Homo sapiens: one gene and its partner. The protein of the gene in region 1 purifies or fractionates together with the protein of each later gene. This does not show direct contact. Each region holds a gene or a part of one and is shown in the gene's direction. Other genes may lie near its edges.

The links.
Region 2: the proteins of LRRC42 (region 1) and PLXDC2 purify together in Homo sapiens (affinity purification with mass spectrometry; 3 studies listed by BioGRID and IntAct, with this or other methods). This does not show direct contact.

What each region holds. Positions count from the first base shown.
Region 1 is NC_000001.11:53,956,350-53,963,389, forward strand, and holds part of LRRC42 (leucine-rich repeat-containing protein 42), read left to right. Parts: intron 1-1,799; coding exon 1,800-1,931; intron 1,932-4,006; coding exon 4,007-4,125; intron 4,126-5,684; coding exon 5,685-5,773; intron 5,774-5,946; coding exon 5,947-6,060; intron 6,061-7,040.
Region 2 is NC_000010.11:20,210,699-20,219,387, forward strand, and holds part of PLXDC2 (plexin domain-containing protein 2 isoform 1 precursor), read left to right. Parts: intron 1-970; coding exon 971-1,031; intron 1,032-6,727; coding exon 6,728-6,878; intron 6,879-8,365; coding exon 8,366-8,404; intron 8,405-8,689. UniProt on the Homo sapiens protein: May play a role in tumor angiogenesis.

The sequences.
Region 1 (7,040 bases):
TAAAATATCACTTTTTGTTGTTGACATAATAGTAATAGCTACTATTTCATGAGGTCTTGCAAGATGCCATGGAATTTTAAAATATTGTTTCTCTTTTTCTTAATCATCCTGAAAAGAATTTTGTAGCCCCATTTTGTAGCTGGAGAAATTGAGGCTCAGAAAGGTTAAGTAACTGTCTCACAATCACACAAGTAATTGGGCTGTTAGAATCCAAACTCAGGTCTGGTCTGTGCTCTTTCTATTGCTTTTCCACTGTACTGTTCCGAACCCTTTAAGGGAAAATTTGGAAGACTGGTTGCAAGCAAGAACCTAGAGCTTTGATTATGTCCTAGATTAGCACCTAGTAATGTCTGTGGCCTAACATGTTTGTTCCTCAACCTTGAGTTTCGTAATGTTTCTTAATCACATTACACAGTGTTATGTCCTTTGCAGAGAACCCTTGTTTCAGAATTACTAAAAATCTTTTGGTTAATTGATCAAAGTATATGTGTTTTCCTTTCTCTGATTGCCAGTAATCCTCTAAATCCCCATTAACACACTTCAACTCTGTGATTGGAAGGTGGAAAACAGCAGCTTTATTTACAATGCAATTAAAATACATCTGAGTAAATAAGGCTCTTTTGTGTACCCAGCTGAGCTCGGTCTCCAGGCACCTTAGGTTCCACCCTTTAAGGGGGTATCAGTGCCTCAGACCATCTGTACCTAGCTGTCAGGCTGGTGATTAGTTTGAGTACATCTTTTTTTGGTTGGAAGTAGGAAGAAAAGAGATTAACTCCTCTCTTGCCCTCTGATTATTCCATCCTGTTTTTGGCAGTTGTGATCCTGCTGATGGAAGAGAGGTATGTACTCTTTTAGGTGTAACCCCACTGATCCTAACACACCATCTTGCTGTGGAAACTTCCAGACATTCAAGAGGAAGGTGGATGAGAGAGGCCTGCTCTTGCCACAAGTCAGTTTCCCTGTCCTCTTAGGTTCCTCTCCTCTCCATTTCCTGTCACACCTAATCCCTTTCATTTTTTCTCACTGACCTCATCTGAGATAGATGAACCACTAGAAAGCAGGGTGGAGGCCCCAGCCTGGGCTGTGGAATGCTGTTTTGATCTCCTTTCCCTCTCCAGAGGCTTCCCTGATGCTTCCTGATAACAACTTGGCAAGGTGCTGCAATGTAATTAAGTTGCTCGTGCTCAGGGTTTGTCTTAATATCCATCTAGACTGGAGTGAGTCCTTGTAGCAGTCTTGCTGTACATACTTTTGGAGTAAAGTTAGGATAACAGGCACAGGGGAGTGTTCAGGAAAGATAAAATGTGATGTGCCAAATATCTCTTGGTATGTTCTTGGGGACATGCAGATTGGAAACGAGAGTTCTTGACCTTGCTCCAGTTTTCAAATCACTGGATGTTGAGCATTAGATTAAAAGCAACTTTAAAAGAATTAGTAATTAAAAATTCGAGTATCCTAAAGTTTGGAAATTCTCAGGTAAGGTCCCAACACCAATGCCAAGGTCTGCCTGATAACAAAGCAGGTGTTTCACTTGTGACTTTCCTTTGCTAATATACATTTATTTATTTATTTATTTATTTATTCAAAATTTTTATTCTACCATCACATAAAAAGATGTTCAAGGCATTTACTAATTAAAAAATTCAGCCTTTGCCCTGATAGTAATTAGTGAAGTCTGCTTATTCCATAGTACTGTGTCCTGATGGGATGGTAGGATATTGACTATGATACAAATCCACAAATGGTAATGCTTTAAGAGTAGTGAGGGGAAGCTATTGATTGCTCTCCACGCTCCGTAGGTATCTCGTGATTTCAGAAAAGCTTGAGGAGATTAAGTCTTTCCGGGAGCTGACCTGCCTGGATCTTTCCTGTTGCAAGCTTGGAGATGAGCATGAACTTCTAGAACATCTCACCAATGAAGCCCTGTCTAGGTACTGACCTGTCACCACTTGCAGATGAATTGTTTCAGTATTGTTTTAAAGGCTGATCCAACAGGATTATCTTCAGGAATGCTGATTACTTCCCATTCTTATGTTGATTTGCTTTTTTTTCCTAAAACATTTTCAATCTCCATTTACTTGGTATAAGCAATATAGATTAGACAACCCTTAGAAAGTCAGTCAGTTGACTCAAGTCAGTTAGTTGACTCTTTTTTTCTAAGTAACTTTTATTTTAATATGTAATACTTGAAGCTACGTAGGTTAAAAAGTGGTTTTGCCCCTTATTTATTTATTTTTATTTTTATTTTTTTTGGAGACAAAAGTTTCGTTTTTGCCACCCAGGCTGGAGTGCAATGGCACGATCTCAGCTCACCGCAACCTCCACCTCCCAGGTTCAAGCAATTCTCCTGCGTCAGCCTCCCAAGTAGCTGGGATTACAGGCATGCACCACCACGCCCAGCTAATTTTGTATTTTTAGTAGAGACGGGGTTTCTCCGTGTTGGTCAGGCTGGTCTCGAGGTCCTGACCTCAGGTGATCCTCCCGCCTCAGCCTCCCAAAGTGCTGGGATTACAGGCGTCAGCCACTGCGCCTGGCCCTATTTATTTATTTCTTTAGACGGAGTCTTGCTCTTGTTGTCCAGGCTGGAGTGCAGTGGCGTGATCTTGGCCCACTGCAACCTCCACCTCCAGGTTCAAGCTATTCTCATGCCTCAGCCTCCTGATAGCTGGGATTATAGGCGCCCCCCACCACGCCGGCTAATTTTTGTACTTTTAGTAGAGACGGGGGTTTTGCCATGTTGGCCAGGTTGGTCTCGAACTTCTGACCTCAGGTGATCCACCCACCTTGGGTTTTGCCCTTTATTTATCCAGTCCTAGTTTATTCTAGCAAGGGATGAGACATTATACCATAGTCAACAATCATTATCGTTTGCTACTTTAACTATCAATGAGCTACAATTATAAAGAAAATGAACTATTAAAGACAGCCAAAGAAATTCTTTTCAGGAGTCATGATTTAAAGAAATGGCCCAGTTCATACCATTCACAAATAGTCTGACTGATCTCAGGTTATTCTGGCCAGCAAAGAGGAGGACAGATGGATCCCTCTGTGGTTTTATAAACACCCAGAAGAACAACAGCATTACAAACCTAGGTCTAACCTACTACCTGAGGCCTGCTTCTGACAGTGACACCTACCTACTGCCCCATAAAAAGATGCTGTTGTGTGAGGCTAGCCAGCATCAAGGCTCAGATTTCTTATGTGAAAACGGAGCATATTAATATACCAATTCCAGCTTAGCATCAGATGGATTGGATTATGGGTATACCTTATTAACCCAAACTGAAAATCTAGATTGATAAAGCTGGTTAAATTTAGAGGATTGTTTGCTTTGCAAAAATAATTCTCATAGGAGTTCTTTAGCAGACTTTCCTGACATAGTTAGAATGTTTTTGATTTTCACACCATTTGTCAGAAAAGCAGCTTTTGTTTTAAAGTATATTTATCCCCTAGTGGAAGTCCATTTACCTCATTCAACAATATACCTTTAGTGCCCTCTGCCCTCTGAAATTAGTACTGCATGACACTAAATTAACTCTCACTTGGTAACTGAAATGGCACCAAAAAATCTTTTTTTTTTTTTTTTTGTTAGGCAGGGTCATGTTCTGTCACCTAGGCTGGAGTGCAGTGGTGCAATCATAGCTCACTGCAGCTTTGAAATCCTTGGTTGAAGCCATCTTCCTGCCTCAGCCTCCCAAGTAGCTGGGACCACAGGCACACAGCACCTTGGCTAGCTAATTTTTTAAAATTTCTTGCAGGGATGGGGTCTCTAACTCCTGGGCCCAAGTGATCCTCCAGCCTCAGTCTTCCAAAGTGCTGACATTACAAGCATGAGCCACCATGCCCAGCCCAAAAGAGCTTAACTTTGTTAAATGCATTGGGTATGAAATAGCAAGAGGTAGAGGATATGTTATATTTTTAAATGAAAATGTTGAAAGCATGTTTTTATACCTAGATTGTCTCAAACTCTCTTTGAGTAATTTATGTATGTACTTTGTTTCCCTAGTGTAACTCAGCTCCACCTGAAGGATAATTGTTTATCTGATGCTGGGGTGCGGAAGATGACAGCACCAGTTCGAGTGATGAAAAGAGGCCTTGAGAATCTAACATTATTAGACTTATCATGTAAGTTTTCTTCGAAATTATAGATTATTTTAATGTTGGAAGAATGGCCTTAGAGATCATGTAGTTCTTCCTCTTCATTTTAGAGGTGAGAAAGGAAAGGTGACTTTCCTCGGTGCCATAGAAACTTGGTGGCAGAACAGGATTGAGGCCAAAGACTCTTGACTCCTGGCCAACTGATTTTTCTAGCACATACCACCTCTTTAGGGTAGGAAAAACCCTTACACATTCATCCATGCCACTCGCTGTGTGCAAACAGAGACACCTTTCATCATATTCATTGCATACTTAAAGGACATTTGACTCATCTTTATTTTCCTTGAGTCTCTGATCCTTGGTGTCTGTCAGCTAGGTCCTTTTTTATCAGTGTTTGCCTGATGAAAAGCTGGATGAACGGATAATTTACTCAGATTAACCAGATATTGACTCCAATGGTAAGAGGTTGACAGAGATCATTTACAATTTAACCGAGCATCCATTGACTCTATGGCAGGACAGTATGATGCCAAAAGAATAGAAAGAGCAGTGGTTTGAGGTCTGAGGACCCTTCTTGGTCTACCACTTTTACTACCAGTTATATACCTTCAGACCAGTTATTTAACCACTTTGAGCATTGGTTTTGGCCTTTGTAAAATGAGGATAATAATGAATGTCCTGGCTGGGCGCGGTGGCTCACGCCTGTAATCCCAGCACTTTGGGAGGCCGAGGCGGGCAGATCACGAGGTCAGGAGATCAAGACCATCCTGGCTAACACAGTGAAACCCCGTCTCTACTAAAAAGATACAAAAAATCAGCTGGGCGTGGTGGCCGGCACCTGTAGTCCCAGCTACTCGGGAGGCTGAGGCAGGAGAATGGCGTGAATCCGGGAGGCGGAGCTTGCAAGTGAGCCAAGATTGCGTCACTCACTCCAGCCTGGGTGACAGAGCAAGACTCTGTCTCAAAAAAAAAAAAGAAATAATGAATGTCCTCCCTACCTCCCAGGGAAGTGTATTCATTCAACAAATATTTTTTGAGCATCTACAATGTGCCAGGCACTACGCTTATGGCCTTGAGGACTCAATGCTAAGTGTAGTACTCTCTGACGTGAGAAAGTAATATATAAGAAAGGATTCTGAAAATAATGCAAGTTGGTAAGAGTGGTGATAGTATCTGTGTCTAAGTTCCCTTGAATATCTTTTTAAAATAAATAAATGCTTTTACTTTGGAGGTGAAATGGCCATGAATAAAGTATGATAAACCATTGTAATACATGTTTATGTATGTTTTCATATGGTTCCAAATTAAACCCTTTGGGATAACTACCTGGTTCATTTATTTTTCTGCTCACCCCCAACTCCTAGAAAGTAAGAGCTGTAAAGGATCTTTAGGGATCATTGAGTGTGGCTCTTTTATATTACAAATAGTAAAGATCAGACCTCTGTATTTAATTTACTTTGAAAAGTTTGCCAACTCAAATGTTTTATAGTTTATCATTGCCCGGACGTTTTTCTGAGCTTATTTTTGGTTGTCATTTTAACAGCATTTATATTGTGACAGAATGCTACGTTGTTTTTGACATCTAGGTAACCCTGAGATCACAGATGCAGGCATTGGATACCTCTTTTCTTTTAGGAAACTAAACTGCTTAGATATCTCTGGGACAGGGCTCAAGGTAAGACTTTTGGTTCCTTCTCTCATTTTTCTAGACTCAACAATTTGATATTTTGCCTGTGCTAATTGGTATTTAGAAAGGGCTGGTATTTATGATGGTCTTTATTTACTACTGAAAACAAGTAAGAATTAACCAAATGTATTTGCATTTCTGATCTGTCTCTGCCTCACTAGGACATCAAAACCGTCAAGCACAAGCTCCAGACCCACATAGGCCTTGTTCACTCCAAAGTGCCTTTGAAGGAATTTGATCATAGTAACTGCAAGACAGAGGGCTGGGCTGACCAGGTACTCCAGATTTTTCTTCCTTGCGGTTGATGCAGCTTTTCATCTTAATTCCAAGTGTCTTATCCAACACATTGAATAAACAGTAATCCACTTGGTAGTCCTTGGTTAAATTGTCATCTTCATGTCAAATTGGAGACACTGATGGGCTATAACTGGCCCACGTGCTTAAAGAATTGGCGCCAGACCTTATATCTCATGCTCTGGTCACTAGGTTGTGCCTTATCTTTACTGGACCTAGGAGAAAATGTCATCTTACAGATGACTCAGAAAATAAGTGAATTCTGGCTTGCTACACAAAAAAGCAGTCTGACCCAACTTCAGAAGGACAGATTCTCTTAGTAGTGTGTATATACAGGAGAGAGAATAAACTCCGGTGTCATGCAAATAAAGATTCAAATATGATTCTTCTCTTTGTTTTGGGAAAGTTTCTTACCTCCCACAGCCTTAGTGAGGAGGTGTCTTTCTTGTCCTTCTCTCACTGAGTCTTAACAGTGAGAGAACTTTACTTTGACTTCCTTTTGTCTTGATGGTCTTTCTTCACTTGGTAGAGTACAGACTTAAGTGAGATTCAGAGTCTTCTATGTAAGTTGGAAGTGTGAAAGTAACCAAGTAGGACAGCACAAGTAGATGCCACCTTCCCTGTGGCTGGGGCCTTTCTCCCTTAGATGCTTTTAACCAATGTTTCTTGGTGGAGGCCTAGAGGACCCACCAAACTGTCCTGGATCCCCTCTTAGCTCCAAGCCATAATGCAGGATGGTAGAACTATCCACCTGCTGGATTGTAGCGTCACCTCTCCACAGGTAAGCAGGGAGACTGCTGAGTCGTGTTTCAGAAGCACACTGAGCTTGGTCCAGAACATGCATGATGAAATAATTATCATGGTGCATTGCCAGACAAAGTTTCTAGTGCTGTATGAGACCTAGATGCATCCAGTGGATGTGGGACAGGTGTGGGATGGTCTTACAAAGGCTTGCTGCAGT
Region 2 (8,689 bases), on another chromosome or scaffold:
GATGAGTTAAAATCAGCAAAGGTGAAATGCACGTAGAGTGGAATCCAGGAGAGACCAGTGCAAGTTGCCAGTTGTCTTCTCCCAGTGGAATTGCACAGATGATACTTAATTTCCCCAATAACAATGTGCAATAATACACAACAAGTACTGCTAATCAAGGAAGCTCACCCAAGCTTGGTCTCCAGGGTTTTTATTAAGGGTTCATTCATCAGGATAGAATGCCCTTGTGACTAATCTTATCTTCCAGTCGTCAGCTCTCCCCAGGGTCAAACTGTTACAGCATGGCCCAGGGTCCCAAGTAAATGAAGTCACATATTCACAATAAATCAAATTGTCAGCATAAACTATCTGCATGGCTCAAGACCCGAGGTAGACACTCTTAATAGGCAGGATAGTCCAGGAGTTTAGAGGTTACTTCTCAAGAGCAAGTCAAGGGCCAGTCTTTTTTTTGGAACATGCAGGGTCTGAAAACCCCACAACTGCCAAGTTAACATTTTACTGCACAAAAGGGAAAGAGTTTGTGTGATGGTGGGTCTTGAATGAATGAGTAAAATGAATGAATGAATGAACCTGAAATCATGAAATACAATATTTGCAAAAAAAGTGTGTATTTATTTGTTTTAATGATGAGAAAAAAAATACAAGGTAAAAGAAAATCCACTTCATAGAAGAGCGATTGGTCTTATCTTTGTGCAGGGATCTAGGTATTCCGTACAGTGCAGTTTGCTTTAACAGTGATTTGGTTGCCATGTGCGATCCTAACAGTGACATCCTAAGGAATGAGTGATTATTTAGCAACCCTCTAAATATTTCCCTGCTTCTCCAGTTGCGAGTTCTATAGAAGAGTTAATGTTATGCTAAACTGAAAATGTGAGAATGAACTACCTACTAATCTTTTACTTTTAATTTCTGTCCACCACCCTGCACCCTATCCTTCCTTTTCTGAACTGCATTGTGGTCTTCTTTGAAGATGTTCCAGTGGATTTGATCGTCATCGGCAGGACTGGGTGGACAGTGGATGCCCTGAAGAGGTACACATGCTTTATTGTGACAGAATCCTGGGACCAAGCTGTCATATACATGTGTTTTAACTGTTAATAATTTTTATTCAAAATTTATGCCCTAAAACTTAATGAAAGGAGAAGAATCCTTCTATAAGCCCAATGTCTGCAAATATTAGGGGTTCGATAACAGCTGGCTATTTTTGTTAAATTAGATAACATTTTCATTACATTGTAGCAACTTGCTACAACCCCTAATAGATGCAGACATGGGGCTTAACTATTTATATGTATTATCTCATTTCATTGTCATATTCATTCTATGAAGAACAGTGCCTGCACTGTCACTACCCCCATATTACCAAGGAGAGAAAGGGGAGGAGTGAGGGGAGCTTGTGGGGAGGGGTGAAGTGTGGGTTCTTGGAGAGTCAGGTAAATGGCTAGGGAATAGTAGGGCCAGGATTGGAATCTGTAGAGGAGTTCTCTTAAATGCTTGCTATTTTTCTAGGATGTACGAAACCATTGTTCCTCTTTGTAATTCAAACAGCAAGACCAGTGGTATTGTGGAGGGTGGAAGACTGCAGCAAATTGATGTGCTGTAATAAATGAGAAATTGTATAACATTAGTTGGCATAGAGAGATGGTATAATGTTAACTCTGAGGGAAACATGATAGAGACAAGGATGCAGTGAAGTCGTGTAAGCAATTGGATACCAGAAACAATTTTAACCCGTTTAAAAGCTTTGCAGTGACTCGCATTTATACTATCATTTCAAGATCATATAAAGATATCCTATAAAGTTTATGAAGAAAAGCATTTACTTCTTCTCCCTTCATTAAGTTTTGGGGTATCAATTTTGAATTAAAACTGCTAACAATTACAAAAGTTTAGCAAAGCAAGCCATGCCAAAATGCTGTTTTAAAAACTATTTGTTCAATGGTTACTTAGAGACTTTTTAAAAATTCATTTTTGGGGGGCATGTTTCATAAAGATCTTGAGCAATACATTTTTAAAAACATTCTTGAACTTTAAATGCAGTATTGCCAGTGTAGCTATAACCAACCTTTTGGCATTTCATTTAGGGAATGACAGCAGTGTGTGCTCATCCGTCTCACCTCACTTATCTAATAACGTAGTTCCAAAGAGTATCTATTGACAAAGCCATAGTTGTGTTTTGAGACAATCATTTCTTTCATATAATCAGTTACCTCAATATAAAATGTTGAAAATGAATATCTCCATATATGTAAAGATTGAGAATGTAATTCAGATGTATATTTTTTCTCCCAAATTTGGTTTATCTTTTCATTTTCTCTATGATTTTATTTCACTAACATTAATTATCAATTTAATCTGTCAAATGTATGAATCTTTTATTTTTATGATGAGTTTTATATGCCTGTGCATCTTCTTTTAGAAGAATTTTCCTACCAAATTCCATCTAGGTGTTATTTTTGTGTATTTTTTTCTGAATATTTTAAAGCTTTGTCTTACACGTCAAAATCTATTCCATTTGGAATTGGTTTTTATGTATTATATAAGGTAGAGATTCAGTTTCGTGGGGTTTTTTTTCTTGATGGATAGCCAAATTTCAAGCACCATTTGTTAACTAATCCTTTCTTTTGGCAATATCTTGCAAAGTCACCTGTTTTATGTATATTTTCTGGGCTCTCCTCTTCTAAAGCTCTGTCAGTACTTAGATCAGTGTCCCACTGTATTAATTTCTATTGTTTTATAAGAAATCTTACTATATACAGGACAAATCTCCTTACTTTTTCTTCTTCACAAGTGTTTGGGTATTTTAGGGCTTTTGTCCTTCATATAAATATTAAACTCACCTTGTCGAGATCTGTAATCCATCTATCAATACATCTTACTAACATTTTATTGGAAATACATTAAATTATGAATTAGATCACATTTCCTAATTACAGAGGCTTTTAAAATTTACCTTTTTTACTATTGACTTCTAGACTAATTGAGTCATCATCAGAGAACATGTTATGATCTTTAAAGTTGATTGGAAATTTTTCATGAACAAGTACATGGGCATTTTGTACAAAGGGTCTATGTGTGTTCAAGAAAAATGTGTGTTTTCCTGTTGGTTGGGTGTCAAGCTTGATAAATGTACTCTTCAGCTATACTTCTCCACTCTCTTTATTTTCACCTTCTGACTTCTTTGAAAGCTTGCCATTTTCATCTTTTCCTCATATTTTTAAACCTCTATTATATGTAATCTCTTTCCTTATTACTCTGTGCTGTATTTGGAGCAATTTCTTCAGATGTATTTACCGGTTTATTAACTCTCCCTTCATCTTGTTTAATATTCTATGTAATCTACTCACTGAAGTAGAAATTCCAACAAACATTTTTCATATCTAAAATTAAATTTGACACTTATTACATCTGCCAAGTATTTTATAGTTTCATGTGAACCGTTCATTTCTCAATTTTATCTTTTATGATTTTAAATATTCCGTGTATGATTTTTGTATATTCCATATTGGATGATCCCATTATCTAAAATTTTGGTGATCTAAATAGTGTGGTCATTGTTTTTGCTGATTCTTTCTCAGACAGCTATTTTTTTTTCTTTTTTAGTGTATATTTGTCTGATCCTATTCTAAGACCTAAATAGGTGATGTTTTCCCCCAAAGAAGATTTGATGATGGGATCCTCAGGATTTTCAGGCTACCATAAGTCTCTGCCCTAATGTGAGGAGGAGAAGTTCAGATTTTTCTCCCCTGTCTACTACTGCTGCAAGGCTTGTTCTCTTTAGAGCGATATTGATTTTGGATTTTTTTCCTCAGGGCAAATTCTGCTTTTTTAACTTCCCTTAATGTATACAGCTCCTACTGTCTTTATAGCACATAGCTTTTGCTTTGTTTTATTTTTTGAGTGGGGAGGGGAATAAACAATGGAAAGGCACCATTGGGATATTCTTTACCTCCTGCAAATCCTAAGGCTTTAAAATTCAAGTTTTATTCAGAATCTACTTGTTTTGTTATAGGAGGGCTATTTAGTTCCTTAGTCTGCCGTTACTGCCAAAAGCAATCTGAGCCTAGGATTTTACCTTAAACGTAGGGTGTTTACTGAACATTATTAGATCCTGTTTACGGAATACTAGGTCCTGTTCATTGACAGTAGAAACACAAAGAGAGAATAATATATGGCAAGTTCCATTCTATACTCCTTGAGTTTGAGATGTGTGTGACATTCACATGCAGACACCTGGTCAATAGATGACTTTTTGGGCCTGAAATCCAAAAGAGGAATGTGGACTGGAAATATAGATTTATGAATAATCAACATAAAGATGTTCATTGCAGTCATGGGTGTAGAAGAGATTGCAAAAGATAATGCATAGAATGAAGTGACAGAGCAAGAATGATCCATAAGAACCACCCCAACACTTAAGGAATTGACATAAATAAAAGGAAATTGAGATGGAGTTGTGAGGGAGGTGTCAGAACATTGAGGAGAGGGTGTGTCACAGAAACCAAGACAGGGGAGTGGACATCTGCACCATAGGCTGATGAGGTGTCAGTAGGACACCATGGAAGATGTTGGATATTTAGCTAAGGAGATATTTAGAAACATTGGTACGAGAAATTTCAACTCAGTTGGATTAGGTAAGAGCAAGATTGTCATAAAAGGGAAAGCTGGGAGTCTGAGAAGACCAAGGCAGACTGATCTCTCTGGAAATATGACTGCGTATGAATGGAGGGAAAGCAGTATAATGTCAGGATGCATTGGGGAGAAGAGGGAGGCAGTCCCTCTTCTGGGACTGCCTCCCTTTGCAAACTGGAATTTGGGTTTGCAAAATAAGATTAGGCATGCTTGTGTACCTTTAAGTGTTGTTGATAAGAAGCCAGCAGAGAATTAGGGGTGGCAAATATTGTAGAGAAAGGACTATGATCACCTAAGCAAATTCACAATACCTGTGAAGGTGGGCTGAGTTGAGCTAGGACATAGGTAGAAATAGGTTGAAAGGATGGCTATAAGGAAAGGTCCCCATCCATTATCACAGAAGGAAAGAATAGGTCAGCCCAGAGTCAAGTAAGTATGCTGATTCACTAAGAAATTTAAAGAAATCTTGCTGATCATGCCTATTTATCAAGGAAATGGAAGGTGAACCCAAGGAGTAAAACCGGGAGAATCATGATGGGATTGCAGTTTTAGGTAAAGTGGAGAGAGCTTGAAATTCATACTGAGCATAATGGGAGAGGTGATTAGCAAGACACAGCAATGCTGCCAAGTGGTATGCACGGCCCTGCTAAGGATGCAGGAGATGTTTGTGGAGCCCCCATGGCGGGTCTGTGTGATTATTCTCCAGCTGTGCCTGGCTTTGGAGCAGGCAGGGAAAAGGCAGATCTTTTCTTTAAAGGTGTTGTAGAAAAAAAAACTAAAAAAAAAAAAAAATAAAAAAATAGAGCAAGATGCTTGAAGCTACTGAAATGAGTGGTTGAAGTAATGGGGGAAAAAGAAACTTAAAAACAAAATCATTTTCTTAGGCTTTCTAAGTAGTCAAAGAATAAGAAGAATTGGAGTTCGCAGGTACAGGGATAGATGGAAAAAGGATAACTGAGCTTATGATTTCAGATCTAAAACATTTTCCACTACAGATATAGTCCAGGGTGTGGGGATGACAACTAAAGTGGTATCTGAAAGGAAATAATTAGATTAATGGGGCTCAGAGGTGCAGGAACTGGAATTTGGGGAATTAAATGAGACCCTAGTATGTTTAGACTTGAAGTGGAGAATAAACCTGTTTCATATCCTATTAATGAAAAGGAGGCTGTCTCAGGAAGTCTGCATTAACAAGGGGAAAGGCACCTAGCGCTCCACTAATGATGAGAGAAGTTTAAGAATGATATTTATTTAACAATAATTTTAAAATGTGGGATGAGAACCACTCATGTCCAGAATAGTTATTTTCTACTCAAGGCCCACCTGAGAGAGGGAGTCCACTGCGGCACAAAAGGTGGATAGAAACACCAACTTCTAAGCTATAAAAGTTTGGATGTTGGAGGTTGTTACCAGTGAAGGTTGTAGGATTTGTTTTCACAAATTAAAAATAAAAAATTCACTATGTCTCATTTCCTGATGTTTTCAATATAGCTCTGCTAAGGAGGAAAATAGGCTGAGTGATTACAAGAGTTCTGTTCAATCCTTTGCTTATGTGGTTTTGAATATTTCATAAAGGAAAACAAAATTTTAGACATTCATTCAACTTGTGACAGATGATTTTTGAAACAATGAAGTAGTATGGGGAAGTTAGCAAATATTTCGGATTTAGCATTGTCAGTTTGATACGAAAGGAATGCACTTTTTCTCCACAAACCTGAGTATGTTTTAAACCTTATCTTTATGCACCTGTTTTTCTTCTAGTATAAATTTTCCCTTTTGACAGTGTGTCTTTTATAAATATACCAATGTAAAATTTAGGGCAAGGTAAACAGTAATATGAAAGCTTAACAGCAGTAAATGATGAAACCTAAATATCTAAAAAGGGAAATGCCTTGTTCCATCCATCTTTTTCTCTTTCCTATTTTATAAACTTCATAAATTAGCAAAATCATTAATATAGTCTTGTACAAAAGTAATTTATTCCTTGTCTTGATATGAGAGGCTTTTGTGCTTTACAGCCCAGCTTCTTTGATGTAAGTTCTAAAAATAGATTTGTGATCACTCCATTTGTTTTCCTTTTCTTTTCTCTTACTAGTCAAAAGAGAAGATGTGTGAGAATACAGAACCAGTGGAAACTTCTTCTCGAACCACCACAACCGTAGGAGCGACAACCACCCAGTTCAGGGTCCTAACTACCACCAGAAGAGCAGTGACTTCTCAGTTTCCCACCAGCCTCCCTACAGAAGGTACCCAAGAGATAGTTTGCTTTTTTTTTTTTTTTTTTTTTTTTTTTTCCCTGAAGGAAGGAAAAATCACTGTGTTGACATGTACTGGAATAGCTCCTACTCTCTAGGTCTCTCTAAAGTTATTCTTTGGCAAACTGGATTTCTAAGGGATTTCCAAAGGGGAAAAAGACAAAATTATTATGAACTAAAAGTAAATGCTGGGATTCTTTTAATGCACTGTGCCTTTTTTTAAGACATAGCTTTTACCATTGATTCTGGCTTCTTGTCCTCTCCTTCCTAGAAAAGAAATACAGATTTCTTCCTGTGTGGCTAAATTTTGTACTAAGCAAATCCAACTTCACAATCACAGGTTAGAAAGGCAAAATGCATATAAAATGTCCGTTGATTCTGGATTCTGAACAATAAATAATTCTATTAATATATAATTCTAATGTTTTCCAGAATGCAGTCAATAAAATATATTGGTCTATAACCTATACAGAAACACTGTATGTGTCATAGAAATTGTCCTTGAAAACAACTATTTCCTCTTCTAAGGTAGGCAGAAATACTAGAGAGTGTTAATGCTTGGGCACAGCTCAGGAGGAAGAAAGTGTATTACCCAACATACGATAATTTTCTATTCTGAATGATACCACCAGGAGGGAGAGGGCAGAAACATAAGACTGGCCACGAATCAGGTTTGAGGGGGATAAATGGGTCTTACTTGTTTATTGTTATAAGCCTCACTTTCTTTGGCTTGAATAAAAAATTAAATATGGAACTTTTAATTGGAATTTAATTTGATATTATAAGGTGAACTGGAATAAAGTGGGGTGGAAAGCAGCTGCTAAGTGCATTTTACTGCTTTTAAAAGCAACATTATCTTTTAATCCATATTATTTTGGATTATTATATTAAAGTCCACGAAAATATTCCTATAATTTAAACCCTACCCTTTAGAGTGAAACATAACCAGTAAAATAAAAAAGCATATCCTACATTTTGTTCAGTCAGGATAAGATCTCTTTATATAGAATTTTGGTCATCTTTTCTAGCAATGGGTAAACATTTAACTTTTGGAGTTAAATTTGTAAATATTGACAAATCTTAACTGTCACAATGAATTTGGATTTTCCTTGATCTTGATTTTTTAAAATGAATAAATAAGGTCATAACTATAGGTTCTAATTACAATAAGTGATTTTAGAGAATTAAAAATAGCTGTATTTTAACTTTTAATTATTACTGCTTACTTTTCTTGTAGAACTTAAGGATCATTCAAGATGTTACCAAAATCTTGACATTACAATCTCTGTAGGAAATTTTAGAACTACATCATGTAAAGCAAGGACTTGCTCTCATTGCACTAGAAATTACCACAATAAATTATCAAAATCTAGTCATGTTCCGACCAAGGCAGTTAGTAGACAATTACTAGTCATAAGATTTATGCTCCTTTGAAATCAATCCTTTTCTGTTATAGTAACTTTGAATTTCTCTTCCAGATGATACCAAGATAGCACTACATCTAAAAGATAATGGAGGTAGGAATTGATACTTTTCTTTCATAAACATCTTTTAAATATGAATTCATTTCATTTATTTTACTATGAGAAAGGCAATACGGGCTTCTAGATAAAAGGTGAGGTTGTGTTTTATTCTCCGTTGGGATTTAACATGGGAAGGAGTCAGTGGGTTGGCTTGAAAGTGAAATGAAATCCTCACCCTTGTGTTTGTGTATAAAACTGTGACACCAATTCCCAATGATAAAGTGGAAAATTCAACCACACATCTTGCTATTCTTTGTTGGTCTAGTCTTTGTTGTATTA